Homo sapiens: one gene and its partner. The protein of the gene in region 1 purifies or fractionates together with the protein of each later gene. This does not show direct contact. Each region holds a gene or a part of one and is shown on either strand. Other genes may lie near its edges.

What was found. The genes of interacting proteins can lie anywhere in the genome.
Region 2: the proteins of TMEM123 (region 1) and WDFY1 purify together in Homo sapiens (affinity purification with mass spectrometry; 3 studies listed by BioGRID and IntAct, with this or other methods). This does not show direct contact.

The regions. Positions count from the first base shown.
Region 1 is NC_000011.10:102,449,757-102,456,648, forward strand, and holds the start of TMEM123 (porimin precursor), read right to left. Parts: upstream 3,010-6,892; 5' UTR 2,868-3,009; coding exon 2,768-2,867; intron 1-2,767. UniProt on the Homo sapiens protein: Implicated in oncotic cell death, characterized by cell swelling, organelle swelling, vacuolization and increased membrane permeability.
Region 2 is NC_000002.12:223,935,313-223,942,338, forward strand, and holds part of WDFY1 (WD repeat and FYVE domain-containing protein 1), read right to left. Parts: intron 1-7,026. UniProt on the Homo sapiens protein: Positively regulates TLR3- and TLR4-mediated signaling pathways by bridging the interaction between TLR3 or TLR4 and TICAM1.

The DNA.
Region 1 (6,892 bases):
ATTGCCAACATTATTAGGTGCTTACCACAAGCCAGGGTTATGTGCATTAGCTCATCTAACCCTCTCAACAATTCTTAGGAGTATTGTTTTGCAGACAAGAACTGAGGCCCAGAGAAGGCCGCCCAGATACAAAGTGGCAGAGACTGGAATTGGACCAGATAGTTTGATTCCTAAGCCTGCAGATATGAGTGCCAAAATGGAACTACTGATTTTCTACTATAAACCTGCTCCTCCCCCAACCTTCCCAATTGTTGCATTACCAGCTGCTCAACCCCAAAACCAAGAGGTCATCCTTTGATTCTTCTCTCTTCCTCATCCCACCCTCCAATCCATCAGCAAGTGATTAGTCCCAACCCCCCATAGATCTAGAATCCACCCTTTTATCTCCATTGCCACTCACCATCATCTTTTGGCTGGGCTAACACAACAGCCTGTTTTTGTTTCCCTGCTATTGTCGCTCTTAACGCGATGATTTCTTAATTTCTTGGCGACTTATTTGAACACTTGAATACAGCCATTTTCAAGCCACCTCAATCCTTGCACTTTTCAGTTACAAGTCAAAAAAGTCCCTTCTTTCCACAGTTGTTCAAGGTGGGTTTCTGTCACTTGCCACTAAGAGTAATGACTAACAGCCGCCCCTCCCATCCTGTTAATGTTAATGTCATTCATTGGAATACTACAATAAATCCTGTTTGCTGATTTGCAAACTTGCTCATAGTCTCCCTCCTCCTTCAACTGATATTTATAAAGCTATGCAGCTGACTGTGAAGAATATTTTAAAAGCAGAATTTCAATAATGTTTTTATCTTCTCCCACAATATTCTAGGCAATGGTAATACTGTGGAATAAAAGTATTATCTACTTCAAGAGCCATCATCATCTAACGCGGCTTAGTGGTGAAATGGTTAATTGAAAATTTGGATTTTGATCTGAAACCAAACATGTATTAATTGTTTTACTTGCCATAAATTAGCTTACTTATCTATAAAATGGGGACGATACTGTGAGGATTCAATGGGATGATTTATGGACCTAAATTAGCATAGCGTGGGATGCACAGAATATGTACCCAGTAAAAATCAGCCATTAAGAGTTTTAGTATGATGGCTAAAAATCACTATACTTCGTAATGACATTGTATACAGATTACACTATACATGAAGACTACGATTAACAGTTACTAGCTTTTTTGAGAAATCTTCTATTGTATACCTTTTAGTCTAGTTGCAAGGTGACATTATATAGTCTGTAGAAACAGATTCCACCTCTGGTTGGTTATACTAGTTTATGAATTCAGGGCTCGCCTACTGTAGAGCATTTCAAGTTTTGCAAATGGGACTAACCTCTAGTAAGACATTAAGTAATAAACAGAACAAACAGTGCTAAAATAGGGCAAAAAAAATCTGTGTTATCAGGGCAAAAGAAAGAAAAGCATGGTCACTCACAGTTTCTCTAATCGGTAATTCATTGAAACAGTAAGGCTTATCTTCACAAACACAGCAACAAATTTTTAAAAATGGAGACCTCACCTCATGAGATAATTGGTATAAAATTAGGACCAAGATACACGATGGACATGATTTTACCACTTTTTTTCTTAAATGATCTCAAAATTAGGTCTGCGAAGCCAGTTTGTCACACGCACAATTAAGCAAACAAAAAAACTTCAGCAAAACAAAGAAAAATTGTTAATTCACCCAGGTTATTCCAGAAAAAGCAAGTGTTGTGCCTGAACCTTCCAGATTTACAAACTGCCTTTTTCTTTTGCTGGATAAAACGAACCTAAGGCTAACATATACAGTGGATGGATAGAACTTAAAACCATGAAAACCTTGGGTTACTTAACTTATCCTAGTTTACTGACCATTACCTAGGGACCTGACTTCTCTAACAGTTGACAAAGGAAAACAGTATTTACACAACAAATCCCAACTTCCTGGTTTCATCCAAAAAGGGCTGTTTGAAGTCTCCAAAGGGCCAAGGGCCTAAAACGAAACAAATTCCGCCCTACACAGAAAAGCAAAGTCAACATCATCCTGTTACGACCTTACTAGCGACGACAAGGGCCACCGGCGACCGTGCAGCTGTGCCCTTAACGCTGCGCAGCTGCCGCGCGCCTCGGCCGGGTGTTTATGGCACACGAGGGGTGGAGAGCGCCCCGCCATGGGGGCGGCCGCCTCAACTACCGCGAGGGCGGGGCGCGCTCCCCAAAAGCTCCCAACTAGCTCCAAGAGCCCCGAAGTCTAACTTCGAGCGTCAGGGGGACCTAAAGATTGTAATTCATCTGGATAATACTGCATAATATTAGACGCTGAAATGCCTGGGGGACGCTTGAAAAGCTCCCCGACTAACTGGGAGACGTTTCCGCGGGCCTAGGTAGACATATTTTTCAACTCAGCTAATCTTGTTTACAAACGGAAGCCTTAGAAACTCTAACCTCGGCAAACATTAACTTCAGGGAAAGGCTGTAAAAACCAACTTGCGGTAACTCAACAGGTTATGCGCACCCGTCCCGGCCTGCGACCGCCGCATCCAAAAAGCGAGAGGGGAAGCACCAGGCAATTTCCTCAGCAGGCGGCCCCGGGGCCAGCGGGTGACTGGTCCAAACCTCAGTTTCCCCCACCCCGCCCGGTCACCTCTGGGTCCGCCCCGAGCGTTCGGCCAGACACACGCGGAACTTTCTGTACCAGAGCCCAACTTGGGAACCCAAGCCTCGGCAGCGCGCTGCCTCCCACGAACGGGGCTGACGACCCCCGCAGCCACTTACCCGCCATGGCTGCGCTTTCATGGGCGGCCCCCAGCAGCGCTAGCACCTGCAGCGTCCCCAGGAGCAGCGCGGCCCAAGCACCTCGCGCGCCGAGTCCCATTGTTCCGAGGGCAGGATGCGGCAGCCTCGTGGGCTCCCAGCCGAGGTGGCGGCGGCGAGAGCGGCTCCTCTGCGCAGCCGGCGCCGGCTCCGCTTCCCCTTCGGCCGCGCACGTTTCCCCTCCCGCCGCTTGCCCCCCGAATGACCAAATAGGGCGCAGGAGCGGGGCCTGGAGGGGGCGTCGCGTGCGCAGCCGGGGCGGCGGGGCCGGGCTGGGTGGCGCGGGGGCGGGCTCGGGGTTCTGGGCGTGGCGACTCGGCTCGCGGCCTCCCTCGCAGGCGCGCGCTTGGGAACCCCAGAAACCGCGAGCCGTTTCCTTTCTCTTCGGAAATGGCAGTTTTGTTGTCCTGGATGAAGGCGAGCGCCGCTGCCTCCCTGAATGCTGAGCACGCTGGCTTCGCGGTGCCCGGAAGGAAGCCTTTGAAGAGTAGTTTTGCGGGCAGGGAGGGGACAGGGGTGCGTGCGACTCAGAGTGAGAGGGAGGAGTTGCAGGGCAAAGGCGGGAGGAGGGGGAGATTCTGGAGAGGAACTTGAGGGGATGGGATTCACTCTAAGGAGTCCTGGGCGGTCGGAGCTTTCCCCTCGCGTGACCCAGCCTAAGGGGGAAGTGGAGAAAAACAGCTCGACAGATTTGTTGCTTAAATTCAAACGTAAAACACCTACGATCTTCTTATCCCAGTTGTACTTCATCTTCTCCACGGGTTCCCTGTATCTCTGATTAAGACACGAGATTAGTGGAGTGGGCGGGTGGGGGCGCGCGCAGGAGTTGGTAGCAACTCTCAGTGAAATACAGTAGAGCCATGGAAAGCGGGGGCTGCATTAATCCAACCAGCCTTTTCTCTCCTTGTGCCCTGCTGTCCCAGTTCAGATGAAATGGCCAGTTTTGAACAGTTTTTGGCTGAGTTCCTTTTAAACCCTTGGAGCCAATGCTAATCACTTGTCTTGACTTGAAGTGCTTGTAAAGTCTGCATTTTCATCGTGCTCAGAACTCTGAAGTGACATAGCTACCTGTGGCTAATGCATGAGAATAACAAAGGCTGAGTCCTGGCTTGGGTGGGAACCCTCAGCTGAAGTAGAAGACTGAAGGATCCAAGGAACCTAAAATCACAGTGAATCCCCACCTGCAAAGGTCTTAATGTTGCAGATCTTTGGCACCTGAGCCAGATTTCATCACATAAAGGCCACATTGCAGTTAACTTTTGAAAACTGTGTTATGAGAGGTAGAACTTTCTCATGTCAGGCAAATCCATCATTACAGAGGTCTGACTGGTCCTAGAGATTAACTGAGACAATCTGTCCTAAATTTACAGAGACTTCCATCTGTGGATTCAGTCAGCCAACCTGCAAATGTTTCCCCTGCAGCTTATCATGGACAAAAAGCAAGCATTGCACATTTCGATTTTGGTTATTCTATTTAACTGGGGAATCTGGTTTAGGAATAAACCGTTCTGGTGACTACCCCATTATCCAAGCATTTCCCAATCTAGGCCCAACCTGTCTTTCCAGCCTTGGTTCTGTTGCCCATGGAGAAGGGTGCTTTCTGGTTCCTGGCATTTGCATACGTTGTTCTTTCCTTCTGGAATTCTCTTCACCAACCCACAGCTAATACTTCCTTTAAGGCTCAGTGTACTTATAGCCTGGGAATCTGGGGTGGAATAAGAGGTCTGGATGTTTATATCCCCACCACATTCATGTGTTGAAACCTAATCCTCAAGGTGATGATAATAAGATGTGGGACTTGGGTGGGCATAGTGGCTCATGCCTGTAATCCCAGCACTTTGGGAGGCTGAGAAGGGTAGATCGTTTGAGGTCAGGAGTTGAAGACCAGCCTGACCAACATGGTGAAACCCCGCCTCTACTAAAAATACAATTATCTGGGCGTGGTGGGACGTGCCTATAATCCCAGCTACTCGGGAGGCTCCCGAGTAGCTGGGAGGCTGAGGCACAGGAATCGCTTGAACCTGGGAGGTGGAGGTTACAGTGAGCCGAGATCACGCCACTGCACTCCAGCCTGGGAGACAGAGTGAGACTTGTCTCAAGAGAAAAAAAAAAAGATGTGAGGCTTTCCGGAGGTGATTTGGTTGCTAATGAATGGGATTAGTGCCCTTGTAAAGGAGGCCTGAGGGAACTTGTTTCACCCTTCTGTACTGTGAGGGCACAGCAGGAAGACGCCATCTGTGAGGCAGAGGGCCCTCACCAGACACCAAATCTGTTGAGGCCTTGCTCTGTCAACTTCCCAGCCTCCAGAACTGGGACAAATAGATTTCTATTGTTTATAAATTTGTTGATAAAGTATCCCATTTAAGGTATTTGTGTTATAGCAGCAGAAACGGACTAAGACAGTGTGGAGAACAAGATATTTATTTACTTGGACAGTTTTTCCCGGGTACTGACCTGTTGGAGACACCTTCAGATCTCTGCTATCTGATTGCCACACCACAGTGAGTGGGTGTGCCCATCTTTGATACTAACAGCTCAGTACTGTGGATTGCCCATGTTTTTTCTAGTCTGAGGAGAGGGGAAAGAGCAAGGAACTGTGTGGCCTTCCTGCTCTCTTGGAAACTCTATTGGGAGGACTAGCCTCCCAGAGAAGTTGTAGCCCCAGTTATGCCTCAGGTTCAGCCCCCATCACTGTACCAACATTTTACTTTGGTGATGTGAAAAGTTAAAAGAACAGCCCTTGGCCATTTAGGTCTCTCCTCCTTTCCAGCCTCATGTCTGGATCCCTCTCTGTAACCTCACTAGAGCACTCAAAGTTTTCCAAATATGCTGGGGCCTTCCACGCCCCTGTGTTCTTGCTCCTGTTCTTCCCTTTGCCCAAGATGCCCTCTAACCTTTTCTCTTAGGCAGTTTCTACTCCTCTCTCAAGATTCCCTTCATATCCCATCTCCCCACCCATCTGGGCAGATTTTAGTGCTTGGATCCCTCTGCTCATACATTGATCAACTGGGTCTCTAACCTTGTTCTCTATAAAATATTCTCCACATAGCAGCCAGTGTGATTCTTTTAAAACATGTCAGATTATGCCATTCCCTTGCCACTTAACAAAGTCTGAAACCATGGCCTGCAAGGCCTACGTGACATGGTCCATGGCTGCCCTTACCACCTCATTTTCTACCCTCTCCTTCACTTCTCAGCTCCAGCCTCCTTGCAGCACTTTAGAAATGTCAAGTCAGTTTCCATCCCGGAGCCTCTGTACTTGCTGCTTCCTCACATCCTTCAACACTGCTCATCTGAGAAAAGCCCTTCTTGAATACCCTAGTTTACAGCTCTGTTTCTTTTTGTGGCATCCAGTGCTATCCATCATTATGTTCATTTATGTGTTTATTTTTTGTCTGTCCTACAAAAATACAAGTTCCATGAGAATAAAAAAGTGAATGCATATTTTGGCCAAGTGCCTATCGCATATTGCTACTGGATTCATGTCATACGAATCACTTCCTTTTTTTTTTTTTTTTTGAGACAGAGTCTTGCTCTGTCGCCCGGGATGGAGTGCAGGGGCACAATGTCACCTCACTGCAACCTCCGCCTCCCAAGTTCACGCGATTCTCGTGCCTCAGCCTCCTGAGTAGCTGGGACTACAGGCATGTGCCACCATGCCTTGCTAACTTTTGTATTTTTAGTAGAGATGGGGTTTCCCATGTTGGCCAGGCTGTTTTTGAACTCCTGAAGTAAAGTGATCCACCTGCCTTGGCCTTTCAAAGTGTTGGGATTACAGGTGTGAGCGACCGCACCCAGCCTACTTTCTTTTATTTAGAACTCAGTTTCCCAGCCTCCATTACAACTGGGTTCAAGAATATAACCTAGGCTTTGCCAGTCAGGCTCATCCATATCAAACTTAAATTCAGGTATAAGCAACCAGAGGAAAGTGGCTCATTATGGAGCTCCTTGCCTTGCTGGTATGAATTGCCCTAATAGCCAGGCGGCTGCCTTAGTTGGCAGCACTAGCAGTGACGTTAGTTTCTCAGTGGTTGCAACATGGAGTTTCTGATGTAATAGTGGTATTGACAGAGAGCTGCAATGGTG
Region 2 (7,026 bases), on another chromosome or scaffold:
GATTCACCTTGACCTTGAAGGGAAGTGTTTTGAGCAAAGTAGTATGTGGTTGACAAAGAAAAATGAATAAAGAGATTATTTCACCATGAAGTATGACAAAAATACATCATGAAATCAGTATATATGTGCTAATAATGTCTTAACAACTCTCAGAAAGATTTGCTGAGCATACTTTGTAGAGAGGGAAGATGAATACCTAAATTCTAGAAACAAGTATCATTCATTATATTACCATCTGCTTCTTAGGAAAGAACTAGCAGATTATTAAAGCTAAACACAGCAGAGGAAATGTCTACTGTGCAGAAATGGTTAAGTCTGTATCATTCAACCAGTAGCTAGTTATGCAGTACCTGGTGGAGTACAGACTATGTGGGAAGATAAGATGAATAAACACAAAGCAACAGGAACTAATACCTGATTGTAATTAACTAGGCATCATCAGTAATATACTAGGAGTGTTGAAGGAAGCTCAGAAAGGACAGAGAATGATGGGCTGGGAAGAATTATTCAATGGAGGAGGTGGAACTTGAAGTGGATCTAGGAGATGAAGGAGGGTCTGAATACAGGAGAGAGGGCAAGTGAGGTTCCTGGTGAGGGAGGCAAAGGCACCCAGGTGGGAAATGTACCAGGTGTGAGTGGGACAGAACACACACTGACTTCACTGGACACAAAAGAACCATAATAAATGAGAGATAGAAGGTGGAAATAAAGCTTAGCAGGGAGCAGTTATGGGGTTCCCAAAGTCCTTTTTTTTTTTTTTTTTTTTGGGGACAGAGTCTTGCTTTATTGCCCAAGCTGGAGGGCAGCAGCATGATCTTGGCTCACTGCAACCTATGCCCCTTGGGTTCAAGCAATTCTCGTGCCTCAGCCCAGCTTCTTGGGAGGATTACAGGCATGAGCCCCTACACCTGGCTAATTTTTGTATTTTTAGTAGAGACAGAGTTTGACTATGTTGGCCAGGCTGGTCTCTAACTCCTGGCCTCAAGCAATCTGCCTGCCTCAGCTTCCCCATGTTCTGTGATTACAGGCATGAGCCACTGCGCCCGGCCCCCAAAGTCCTTTTACAGACATGATTAAATAAGGAGCTAATGAAAGGTCATGAGCAGGAAAAAGACACAATAAAAGCCTAGTTAAAGATAGGAGATTAGTGGGACAGATCCAAGTACAGTATGCTGGAACTCAGGGAAGCCAGTTAATAGGCTTTGAAAAATGAGGTTTAAAAGATGATGAGGACAAACACTAGGGTAATTATGGGCAGGTGGGCAGAAAAGAGTTCCCACAGCAGGCCTGCTGCTGCTGTCCTTAGAAAGTCTTGCTTGCAAGGTTGGCCCTTGGCAGGTGTCTGGGACCTTGTTTATCCAGAGGGGACCTCACCATTCCCTAACTCCTAAGAATGGCTCACTGTGCTTCATGCCTGTATAAAATATGTGGTTTATGTTGACCACCTACCTTCCTTCTGAGAGTTTGGAATTTTGGAACATTAGCCAAGGGCACCTACATGACCAGCCTCTAACACTGAATAAAGTCTCTAAGGAGCTTCCCTGATAAACAATATTTCACACATGTTGTCTTAATTCAATCTGAATTAGCCTGTCCTGTGACTCCACAGGAAGAGGACTCTTGGAAGCCTTGTGTCTGGTTTCCTCTGGATTTCACCCCATGTGCTGATTTTGTTTTGCGTCTTTTGGCTATGATAAATCACAGCCATGCGTATGACTATAATGTGTCAATCTTTCTAGTGAATCAATGAACCCGATCTTGAGGATCTCAAATATAGCAGGGGAAAGATGTCTAAGTGAAACTAATCACTGACATGACCTGCAAGTAACCAAATATGGAAATAAAGAAAAGGCATGACTCAAAGGCAGTTCTAAGAATTTAGGATTGTAAATAACCCCTCAAATGGTATTGTCCTATTCAAACAGGAAAAATTTTTTTATTTTCACTTATTCACGTGCACACACAAACATGCATACAAAGTAGAAACATATTACTCTTTCGTAAGATTAAAGTAACAAAATGCAAAATAAGTGGAAATGAAAATAATAATAGCTAACACTTGTATAGTGCTTTCTCTGTCCCAGTCTTTAAGATTAAAGCAATTAAATGGAAAATAAATGGGAATGAAAACAATAACAACTAACACTTGCATAATGTTTTCTCTGTGCTAGGCACTGTTCCACGTGGTTTAATTCACCTAATCCTCACAAAACTCTGTAAAGCAGGTACAAAACGGACTCATGTCCATTTTGCACATGAGAAAACTGTGATACAGTGAGGTTAAATAACTTGTCTAAGATCACAGGGCTGGGATTCAAACTGAGGCATTCTGGCTCCCAAGCCTTTGTTCTTAACTATGCTATAAAAAGAAAATGATTGTAACAATGAAGGATCACCCTAACAATACAGGAGTAAATGTGTGGGGTGGCCACCCAGGCTTCCTGCCTTCTCAAGTCTTCAGTTTATTTTATAACACAAATTAAAGTCTACTTTTAGGCTCTGCATGACAATGAAAATACAGCAGTTAACATCCTGGTTTTCTGTATTAACTAATGAATTCCAGCTATGCCAGCCTTCCTCCCAGGCATAACACTTAAAAATCAAGTTATTTATTTAAGATTGTTTCTATGTGAACAATTGGTAAATACACAAATTTTTCCCCAAACCATCTTAATAAACTTAGATATATCTAAGTGGAAGCAAATATATTACATATTTGGTATAATTTTTAAAAAAGGAAAATGCTAAAAAACATCTAAAAGTTGGTTTTCTGTAATCTTTACTCTTTCCCAGCCTAAGTGCAACATCTCAAAACATTTTAAATCACATGAGATTTATCTTTAACTTGGGACAAACAAAATTGAGTTTCCTGCAGAAACCAATCTTGGCCTACGAGCCCCTAATGCAACAGTATAAGTACGTCCATCCACAAACTCTATTTCTCAAAAGTGAAGACAGTAGGCCTATAGCCTTAACTTATTTATAAGGCTTTATAAAGCTTTTACCTTTTAAAAATTGTATCATTCAATCAACTGACTGTCTACATTTTTGGTGCAGTCCACAGCAAAAAAGTCCAAAAAGCAAACATACTGGTTCCTACTGTCTCACCATTTTAGTTCCGCTCTGAAAGCAGAGTCTTATTTTCTGTTTCCCCTACCAGGAAAGTCACCACTGTAGTTCAAATTCTTAAACTTAAATTTAAATTAAAGAGCTTAAGGTAATTATTACTTCAGCAAAATACTAATGACTTCATACAAGAAGTAGTACCATTTTCTATTAACCATTCACGAGACATTAATCCATAAAGGTTTCTAAGCAGAACCCTAAGCTGACCACCCAAACCACTAATGACCTGTGACTCCCAGGTGTAATGGCATTAAGCTTTGATATTCCACATTGGCTTAATACTCTTTGGAGTGCTGACCGTATCTAGCTTTGTCATATGCAGTTTGATTACAGTGAACTAGGTGGCTATCTGTGAATGACCCCAGGTAAATATATCCCAGAAGGTGACAAAAAAAAAGAGGATAAAATGTAAGCAGTATTTTTTTTTTTTTTTTGAGACAGGGTTTTGGTCTGTCACCCAGGCTGGAGTGCAGTGGCACGATCTCAGCTCACCTCAACCTCCGCCTACCGGGCTCAAGTGATCCTCCCGTCTCAGTCTCCCAAGTAGCTAGGATTACAGGTGCACACTACCATGCCTGGCTAATTTCTGTATTCAGTATTCTTTCTTGGTGGTTGTACATAGGCAAGCACAGTGACAAATAACCCTCCTTTCTTGTAGAGCCGTGGTTCTAAGTGTGGTCCCTGGACTAGCAGCATCAGCATCAACGTCACCTGGAAACTTGGCAGAAATGCCAACTCTCAGGCCCCACCTGACTTTCCAAATCAGAAACTCTGGGGGTGGGGTCCAGCAACCCGAATTTCAACAAGACCCCCAGGTGATTCTGATGCACATTCAAGTTAAGGAACCAGTGTTCTAGAGAGGCCAGATAAGTACATGAAGCCCGGACTGGGGTTTCTCAATATCAGCACTATTGACATTTGGGGCTCAATAATCCTTTGGTGTGGGGCATAACAGGATACTGAGATGCATCCCTACCCTCTACCTAGATGCCAGTATTAGTTACATACAGTATTAGTCCGTTTTCACACTGCTGATAAACACATGCCAGAAACTAGGTAATTATAAACAAAATGAGATTCAATGGACTCACAGTTCCATGTGGCTAGGGAAGCCTCACAATCATGGTGGAAGGCAGAAGACATGTCTTACATGGTAGCAGACAAGAGAGAAATAGGAACCAAGCCAAAGGGGTTTTCCCTTGTAAAACCATCAGATCTCCTGAGACTTACTCACTGCCACGAGAACAGTATGGGGGAAACTGCCCTCATGATTCAATTATTTCCCACTGGGTCCCTCCCACAACACATGGGAATTATGGGAGCTACAATTCAAGATAAGATTTGGGTGGGGACACAGCCAAACCATATCACCTCCCCCACATCATGACAACCAAAAATGTCTCCAGATATTACCAAATGTTCCCTGGGTGGGAAAACCACCCCTGGCCCAGAACCACTGGCCTAGATTTTACAAAAGTGGATACTAACTTCAGGAAAACCTTCATACCTTTCACTTTTCTTCTCAAAATGCTCTCAGCTAGTTCTCACTGCTTTTAGCGTTTGTAAAATGAATTCACTTCAGCTGGACCCTACTTTAAATGTAAAAAGCTACTGGCTCATGCCTGTAATCCCAGTACTTTGGGAGGCCGAGGCGGGTGGATCACGAGGTTTGGAGTTCAAGACCAGCCTGGCCAAGACGGTGAAACCCTGTCTCTACTAAAAATACAAAAGTTAGCTGGGTGTGGTGGCGGGTGCCTGTAATCCCAGCTACTCGGGAGGCTGAAGCAGGAGAATCGCTTGAACCTGGGAGGCAGAGGTTGCAGTGAGCCAAGATCATGCCACTGTGATGCATGCAGTAAATAAAGATTACAAACAGTCTCATTTGTTCAGGCCAAATTTTAGCACCAAACGAGTTTTCAGGTCCAATTTACACACACACATACACACTTCTGACGTTTAGAATGCACTAAATTTTGGAACTGCTGATAAGAGAAGGTGACTGTACCTACCTTATAGGGAGGAAGTGTGAGGATTGGATCCAATAACACATAAGGTCCAATTCTGTACTCGTAGAGAAAAGGGACTTTCAACAGGTTAGCTATTGTTATTTCTAAATTACAAATTCCGATCATATCATTTGCTTGTTTTGAACTCTTTGATGGTTCTACACTGCCTGCAAAATAAGGTCCAAATTCCTTATTTCTTTCTTTTTTTTTTTTTTGAGACAAAGTTTTGTTCTTGTTGCCCAGGCTGGAGTGCAGTGGCGTGATCTCAGCTCACTGCAACCTCCGCCTCCCAGGTTCAAGTGATTCTCCTGTCTCAGCCTCCCAAGTAGCTGGGACCACAGGTGTGTGCCACCATGCCCAGCTAATTTTTGTGGGTTTTTTTGTTTTTGTTTTTTGAGACAGAGTTTCACTCTTGTTGCACAGGCTGGAGGGCAATGGCATGATCTCGGCTCACTTCAACCTCTGCTTCCTGGGTTCAAGTGATTCTCCTGCCTCAGCCTCCCAAGTAGCTGGGATTACAGGCATGTGCCACCACGCCCAGCTAATTTTGTATTTTTAGTAGAGATGGGGTTTCTCCATGTTGGTCAGGCTGGTCTCAAACTCCTGACCTCAGGTGATCCACCCGCCTCGGCCTCCCAAAGTGCTGGAATTACAAGTGTGAGCCACTGCACCCAGCCAATTTTTGTATTTATAGTAGAGATGGGGTTTCACCATGTTGGCCAGGCTGTTCTTGAACTCCTAACCTCAGGTGATCTGCCTGCCTTGGCCTCCCAAAGTGCTGGGATTACAGTCGTGAGCCACCGCACTTGGCCCCCAAAAACTTTTTTTTTTTAATTTAAAAAACAAAACAAAACCGGACACTGGGTCCTTCTAGCTCTCAGTCTTCTCTGTTGCTATTGTCACTGCCCACCTTTTGCTCTGGTCACTTAGAAATAGCTATGGTTCTTTCCCTCTTACAATTCCCTCCTGTCCTTTCCTCCTTCCTCTGCCTGGGATGAGGGTGCATCCCTCCTTCCTTTCTAGATGCCACTCCTCTATCCATGAAGACCAGCTCAACGACCTTCTCTAGGAGGCTGTCCCCAAACCCCGGCCCCAGCCCAAAGAGCCTCCTCTTCCTGTGTCTTCCCAGCACTGGATGCTGAATACATAGGGGCCATCTCTTCACTAGACTGTTCAGCCCTTGGGAAAGAGCAACTTAGCTGTCAGCTGTCTCTCCCCCACAGGTCTAGCATGGGCCCCACACACGTGCTGGGATTACAGGCGTGAGCCACCTTGCCTGGCCAAGGTAGTGTGGCTTTTGACCCCTGTTGTGTCCTCAGGGCCTGACACTCAATAAAAAAGCTTTTTCTAAATGAATGAGTAAATGAGTGAAGAACGTGACACGTATTTATGACAATGTGAAAACAAACCACCATGGCTAACACCAAGAAAAAACCCACGCCCATGTGCTTTCATTACATCTCATGAAGTGTAGCACCTACTAAAAAGGTTGTTCTCCCTTCAAGGAAGTTGCAAGAGCCTGAACACAACAGAAACCTCAAACGCCAACCCCATCCTGGTCCAGTCATCTACCTGGGCTCTGCAATAACAGTGGTGCACGAGTGAAAAAGTGAGCAGATGCAAGCTCCCCCAGAACGTTTCAGTCCCAGAGCAGCTTAGTAATCACTTTCCAAAAACATTTATCAGCACTGCTCCTGACCAGCAATCTCAAATATTTAGCAACTTACCCAAAACGCATGATTCATGAATAAAATATTTGACCGAATAAAGGCTGCTAACTTTTTTTTTTTTTTGATACGGAGTCTGGCTCTATCGCCCAGGCTGGAGTGCAGTGGCACAATCTTGGCTCACTGCAAGCTCTGCCTCCCAGGTTCACGCCATTCTCCTGCCTCAG